2 linked regions of the Homo sapiens genome follow. The protein of the gene in region 1 purifies or fractionates together with the protein of each later gene. This does not show direct contact. Each region holds a gene or a part of one and is shown in the gene's direction. Other genes may lie near its edges.

The links. The genes of interacting proteins can lie anywhere in the genome.
Region 2: the proteins of STYK1 (region 1) and NUP205 purify together in Homo sapiens (affinity purification with mass spectrometry; one large-scale study listed by BioGRID and IntAct). This does not show direct contact.

The regions. Positions count from the first base shown.
Region 1 is NC_000012.12:10,632,473-10,636,160, reverse strand, and holds part of STYK1 (tyrosine-protein kinase STYK1), read left to right. Parts: intron 1-1,474; 5' UTR 1,475-1,542; coding exon 1,543-1,594; intron 1,595-2,036; coding exon 2,037-2,171; intron 2,172-3,688. UniProt on the Homo sapiens protein: Probable tyrosine protein-kinase, which has strong transforming capabilities on a variety of cell lines. When overexpressed, it can also induce tumor cell invasion as well as metastasis in distant organs.
Region 2 is NC_000007.14:135,564,414-135,568,101, forward strand, and holds part of NUP205 (nuclear pore complex protein Nup205), read left to right. Parts: intron 1-3,688. UniProt on the Homo sapiens protein: Plays a role in the nuclear pore complex (NPC) assembly and/or maintenance. May anchor NUP62 and other nucleoporins, but not NUP153 and TPR, to the NPC.

The DNA.
Region 1 (3,688 bases):
AAGTAACACTGTGGTTATTAGTATCAGTATTAAAAACAATGCATAATGTAATGATAGAGGACAGCATAATATGGCTAATGTAACACCTGTACAACATAGTAGCATATTATATAAGCTATACTTCTGATTTTTGTTTTATGTTTTTATCAAGTCACTACAAAACTGGATCACATATTTAGACTTATTTAGCAGAAAATCATATTTTCTTTCAAGTTAATCAGAATTAAAGAAGTAGGCTTTGTTGACTATAGAACCATGGGAGTGTCTTGTCAAGCAAAGGCAAAATATAAATTTAGGAGAGGTATGGGACAGTGGTAAACATGAGTTCTCTTTGGAAAGAAAGAACCAAGTTTCTAGGGCTGTTATTTGAAATATGTACTGATTATATTATATAGACTTAACAGTGATACACATAAAGAATCCCTTGCCAGACAAACAAGAAACTAATAACTAGAGTCTACTTGGAGGAGACTGGAGGAGAGTTAAGAACTGGATAAATGGAGAAGAATGGGGGGGAGAAATATTTTTATGCTATACAATTTTACACTACTATTTTTTGAATCATATGAATGTATTTTCTTTTTATTTAAAAGAGAAAGAGAAGGTGGCTTGGTACTGATACTTCCTTTATATCCTTGTAGCAATGAGTGTCCGTGTCTATATCTGATATGAGCAGAGGAAGCACCTTGAAGCTCTGAGGGATGAGGAATTAAATAGTTTTTATTGATAAATGCTGTCTGTTCACTGCTTGTGAGGGTGTGGATATTTCAGAGAAACAAAGCAAATGTGTAACTCATATCCTTCGACATCTGTCAATTTTTTATTTGTTATCTGAATTAACTGTGTGTAAAAATGAAATTAAATGTTTTCTTTAGAGCTAGAAATGGTAGCTCATGCCTGTAATTCCAGAGACTCAGGGGATTGAGGCAGGAGGATTAATTGAGCCCAAGAGTTTGAGATTTAAATGAGCCATGCATGATCACACCACTGCACTCAAGCCTGGCTACAGAGCAAGATCCCAACTTCAAAAAATGTTTTGCTTAAAAAATATGATGCACAGCTAAAAAAAATATATTAGACATGCTTAATACTGTAGGGGAGGTAGATCATGCCCACATAACCCATGGATCACAGTTCAGATGGATGTTTTGAATCTGTACTTGATCATGGGAGCAGAAGTCTCGGGTGGGAGGGGAGACTTTAAAATAATTTCAGTAACAGTTGAATGAAAGGACAAGAGCAGATCAGAGCTCTTTGCTGTATAATAGAGAAAAGAGAAACGCTGAGAGGAAGAGAAGGTTGGGAGGGTTCTTCCAACCTGAATATCAGCTAGGTAGATAGAGATAAACGGATGACTCAGAGAGGTAGCCATTTACTTAACTAGTGATCTGTAGAGGCGGTTTAAAATTCTGTGTGTACTTCATTTATTTTTTTTCATTCATTTTATTTTTTTCAAAAACCACTCAATCCTTAGGAATTACTCACAGCTGTGCTGTGTGCATTCTCTGTGGGCCTAGCAGGGAAGGGGACAGCCCTGTGGCAATGGGCATGACACGGATGCTCCTGGAATGCAGTCTCAGTGACAAGTTGTGTGGTAAGTACGGATTCCACAGATGTCTATCCTCTGATTTTAGAATTATGAAGGCTAAGGTCTCGGTAGATTCTAGAAGGAGGATGATTTGATTTCCAGTAGAAATGAAGACAGTGGTGATAAAAGGATGGGGACTAGAGGCCATTGTCTTTTTGGGGAGAGGGTAAGTGCTAATCAGTGATCCAGATGCTGCATCTTCAATCTTGGTAAGAAACTGCCAGAAGCAACGTCATGCACATTTGATGGGCTAAGAAACAGAGTCACTGGGGTTTCTGGTTAGAGAGTTGCTCCCAGCAGTGTTTCTGTTGAATGGAAGTAGAGGAGATGGTAGAAGAGATGACCTTTTCATGTATGATGAGCTGAGAGCTGGCGGGTAGGGGAAATTGCATGAACACCAGGTTAGGCTTCTTCATTCTCTTCTCTTCCTGTGTGATCGCCTACCCAGTCATCCAGGAGAAGCAGTATGAAGTGATTATCGTCCCAACTTTGTTGGTTACTATCTTCCTCATCCTTCTTGGGGTCATCCTGTGGCTTTTTATCAGAGAACAAAGAACTCAACAGCAGCGTTCTGGACCTCAAGGTAAAGCTCAAACTTTGGGGCTGGGCAGGGGCTTAAAGAAGATGGAGATTAGGAAAAAGTATGGTCTAAGTTTCAATGAGCCCATGTCTAGAAGTCTAGGTACCTGCAATGAGAGAGGCATGGGTTCCCTCCCATGGAGTTGAGAGGGGGATGATCTCTTTTCTAGGAATTCCCGAGTTGGAATTCAACACGTGCTTACTGACTGAAAAAAGAGTGTGCAAGAAAAACCTCATATAACCTGTTTCTATTCCTGTTGGACTATCAAAACTTTGACTATATGAGTGCCTAAGGACCTAGGAGAAAGACCTAAGGGGGTAAAGTCCAAGGCTTTATGAACATCCTAGGAGGATGACATATCACCCTATGATACGTTCCATTCCTAATCTTTGCCTCCAGGATATATGATGGAAAGGAGGGGCCTTTATATTATAACAGTCTTTGAAGTGCTAAGTAGATGATAACAGTCTGTTCTGGAGTTCCACTGAGCATATAATAAAAGGGAATCAATTCACAGATGAAACTCAGGGTAAAAAGAAGGAAAAAGAAAACTCTCATAATGATATGAAACTCTATAGTGGCTAATCCTTAGTTTTTCTTTAAATTTTATCCCAATAGTCTTATACTTCACTTTTATAGAAAACTTCTCAAACAAGTTGTCTAAACTCACTCCTACTACTTCTACTCATCACATTCTCTTTTGAACACACTAAAATAAGGTTTTCATCTCTACCACTTCGCCAAAACAAGTCTTTCCAAGGTCATCAATGACAGCTGCATTGAAAAGTCCAATGATCAATTCTTAGTCTTCGTCTTACTTGATCTGTCAAAAGCATTTGAAACAATTTTAAACTTTCTCTTTCTTGAAATACTGAAAAAACTAAAGCCACTTCCTAAATGCTATAATTTTTAGTCTTATGGATTCAAATACATTTTCTATTCCAATGATAGTCCCTTGAACTCAATTCTCATATTAAACCACCTACTGCACAGTTTCAATGGAATACAAATCTCATATGTAATATGACCAAAACAAAGGTCCTGAAATTCTCTCATAAATGTCCTCCGCAAATAGTCTTGCCTATCTTAGTAAATGGCAAGTCCTGTCTTCTGTGTTTTCAGTCTCAAACCTTGAAGATATCAGTCTCAAACCTTGAAACACAGTTTGAGACTGTGTTTTCAGTCTCAAACCTTGAAGATAACTCCTTTCTTTCTCTCACAGTCTGTATCTAATCCATAAGCAAACACTGTTACCCTATTTTCAAAATAAACCCAAGTTACTCTCACATCTCACTGATCACTGCAACACACTCTTAACATTCCCTGCTTCTGCCCCTACTCCTTTATAGAAATGCCAGAATGAGTCTTTTAATACAGTCAGTCCTGTTAGTTATCTGCTTGAAATCTCTCTTCCACACACACACATGCAGTAGCCTCCCACCTTGCTCAGAATGAAAAATGACAAAATTTTTTCCATGGCCTTATGTGATCTGGGCCTCCCTGGCCTTGTCTCCTACTAC
Region 2 (3,688 bases), on another chromosome or scaffold:
TTTTTTTGTGTGTGTTTAGTAGAGACAGGGTTTCACCATGTTGGCCATGCTGGTCTTGAACTCCTGACCTTGTGATCTGCCCACCTCGGCCTCCCAAAGTGCTGGATTACAGGCATGAGTCACCACGCCCGGCCTGTTTTTTTTTTAAATAGAGACAGGGTTTTGCCATGTGACCCAGGCTGGTCTTGAACTCCTGCACTTAAGCTCCTTGAACCTTGCTTGGGAGGCCTACCTCAGCCTCTCAAAGTGCTAGGATTACAGGTGCGAGCCACCTTGCCTGGCCCTTTGATGCTATGTTGATATTAATGACGAACTAAGTAGGCCAGTGAACCTGTTTTTTTATTGTTGAGTTTTTTTGTTTGTTTGTTTTTTGAGATGGAGTCTCACTCTGTCTTCCAGACTGGAGTGCAGTGGTGCGCTCTTGGCTCACTGCAACCTCTGCCTCCAGGTTCAAGCGATTCTCCCACCTCAGCCTCCTGAGTAGCTGGGATTACAGGTGCACGCCACCATGCCTGGCTACTTTTTAAAAATTTTTTGTAGAGACAGGGTTTTGACATTTTGGCCAGGCTGGTCTCGAACTCCTGACCTCAAGTGATCTGCCCGCCTTGGCCTCCCAAAGTACTGGCATTACAAGTGTGAGCCACTGCAGCCGGCCTATTGTAGAGTTTTGATCTTTAATTGGATGCCTACCATTATTGGGGGAAAAATTGGATTTTTCTCTACCATTCACTGAGCTTATTACACTAAATATGTATAGTACAAGGAAATTTATTGGTTTTTCAGAGGTCCTACTGTATATTAATATTTAAAATGAGGGAGAGAAAATTAACTTTTGTCAGCACTTTATCAGATTTCTGAAATGTCTGTGGTAAGGTATATTTCAGATTTGCATAGGAGTCATCATTAATACCTTCCCTTTATACCATGTGCCATTTGATGACCAATTCTGAGTCCTTTCTGTTACTAACAGACCTTTTCTTCCTCCTGTACTGCCCTCATCCTAGTTTAGGTTCCATTTTCTTATTTTTTTTTTTTTGAGATGGAGTTTCGCTATTGTTGCCCAGGCTGGAGTGCAATGGTGTGATCTCGGCTCACTGCAACCGCCACTCCCAGGGTTCAAGCTATTCTCCTGCCTCAGCCTCCCGAGTAGCTGGGATTACAGGCACCTGCCACCATGCCTGGCTAATTTTGTATTTTTAGTAGAGATGGGGTTTCTCTATGTTGATCAGGCTGGTCTCGAACTCCCGACCTAAGGTGATCTGCCCACCTTGGCCTCCCGGTTCCATTTTCTTATAAGTGGCTTACTTACCTCTTATCCTTGTTTCCTGACACTGCCTGTTCTAGTCCATCAACCACACTAGAACACCATTTTCCTACAATGCCAGTTTCATTTTGTCATCTGCTACTGGAAACTTTGCCATTTACTAATAGGAAAAATTCCATCATGGCCCTGGAATCCAAGGCTGAAACCTACTCTATCCTTTGCAGTTAGAGAGAGGGCCAAGAAAATGATCCTGAGGGAAGTCATCTAGTCACCAGGATCTAGGTCCTCATTTTGGCAGGCAGAGAAATCTGATTTTTTTCAGTGTATCCAGAGTTGATTAGGTCCCATTCATTGATTATTCTCTAATCAAATTCAGAAAAGACAGATACATAAACCAGTATGCCAGTTATTGCTCTTTTTTATTTTATTTGTTTATTTATTTGTTTTTTGAGACAGAGGCTTGCTGTGTTGCCCAGGCTGGATGGCAGTGGTGTGATCTCGGCTCACTGCAACCTCTGCCTCCCAGATTCAAGAGATTCTTGTGCCTCAACCCTCCTTGTAGTTGGATTTACAGGTGTGCATCATTGCACCTGGCTAATTTTTGTATTTCTAGTAGAGACGGAGTTTCATCATGTTGGCCAGACTGGTCTTGAACTCCTAGCCTTGGCCTCCCGAAGTGCTGGGGTTACACGGATGAGCCACCACCCCTGTCTGCCAGTTATTGCTCTTTAATGGGAAGTATGTCTGCATAGGTACTCATGTTGCCTTGTCAACACATCCTTCATGCTAGAAATTTATATGTCGAGCTATATTTTTAATCAGAAGATTGGAAAGTGTGGGACTAAAGCAGGAGAAGCAAAGCAGGGAATTGGATGATCTGTCTATGTAAGGAAGATCTAGACATGCAGATTCCTCACATCCCCACATCAAAGACCTGACGCTTTGCATCCTTCCCTAATCTTCAGATTAGTTTAGGCTCTTTCTTTCATGTACTCTCATAGCCCGTTGTACTTCATCATATCTTTTATTATACTGATATCTTTGGAATTATTTGTTTTTTCGTTTTGTTTTGTTTTTTGAGACGGAGTCTTGCTCTGTTGCCCAGGCTGAAGCGCAGTGGCGCAATCTCGGCTCACTGCAACCTCTGCCTCCCAGGTTCAAGCAATTCTTCTGCCTCAGCCTCCCGAGTAGCTGGGACTACAGGTGCGCACCACCATGCCTGGCTAATTTTTGTATTTTTAGTAGAGATGGGGTTTCACCATATTGGCCAGGTGGCTGGTCTCGAACTCCTGACCTCGTGATCGGCCCACCTCGGCTTCCCAAAGTGCTGAGATTACAGGTGTGAGCCACTGCACCCGGCCTGGAATTCTTTGTTTAATGTCTGTCAGTCTTATCAATTTGTAAGTTCCATGAGGCTTGGGATTCTGTCTGTCTTGCTCAGTCTATGTGTGTATATATATATATATATATATATATATATATATATATATATATATATATATATGTATATATGGTCCCTCAGTAAATATTTGATAGTGAATGAAAGTATGAATAAATAATCCATCTCCACTGGTTTAGTCCGTCCTCTCCCTGCACATCTCCCTTTAAAAAATTTTTTTTTCAGGCTGGGTGCAGTGGCTCATGCCTTTCATCCCAGCACTTGGGAAGGCCAAGGTGGGCAGGGTAGATTGCTTGAGTCCAGGAGTCTGAGACAAGCCTGGACAACATGGTGAAACCCTGTCTATACCAAAAAAAAAAAAAAAAAAAAAAGCAAACAAACAGAAATTAGGTGGGTGTGGTTGCATACCTGTAGTCCCAGCTATTCAGGAGGCTGAGGGGGGCAGTATCTCTTGACCCCAGGAAGTTGAGGCTACAGTGAGCTGAGATGGCACCACTGTACTCCAGCCTGGGTGACAAAGTGAGACCCTGTCTCAAAAAAAAAATGTTTTTAAATTACATTGCGTCATCTGACGTTGTTCATTGAGTTATAATGTATTTAATTACATTACAGTTATCTTTCATGTTGTTCTTATATCCTGGTAACTTTATTTGGATTTGGGTTTTCTCAACAGTTTACCCTGTTTACAGTCTTTAATGTTTAGGCTATAGTTAGTTCTAAGTTTCATCTGTTGAGTAATTGGTTTTGACCAGTTTTTCCTTCAGAGTCTAAACACATATGAGTACCTTATCTGCTTATTTCCAAACAGAAACCTTTGGCTTTAGAGTCATATTTTTTAAATGGTGAGTCTAAAATCAGTTTAGTAGGGGCCGGGCGCCGTGGCTCATGCCAGTAATCCCAGCACTTTGGGAGGCCGAGGTGGGCAGATTGCTTGAGGCCAGGAGTTCAAGACCAGCCTGGCCAAATGGTGAAGCCCCATCTCTAATAAAAATACAAAAATTAGACGGGCGTGGTGGCACGCCTGT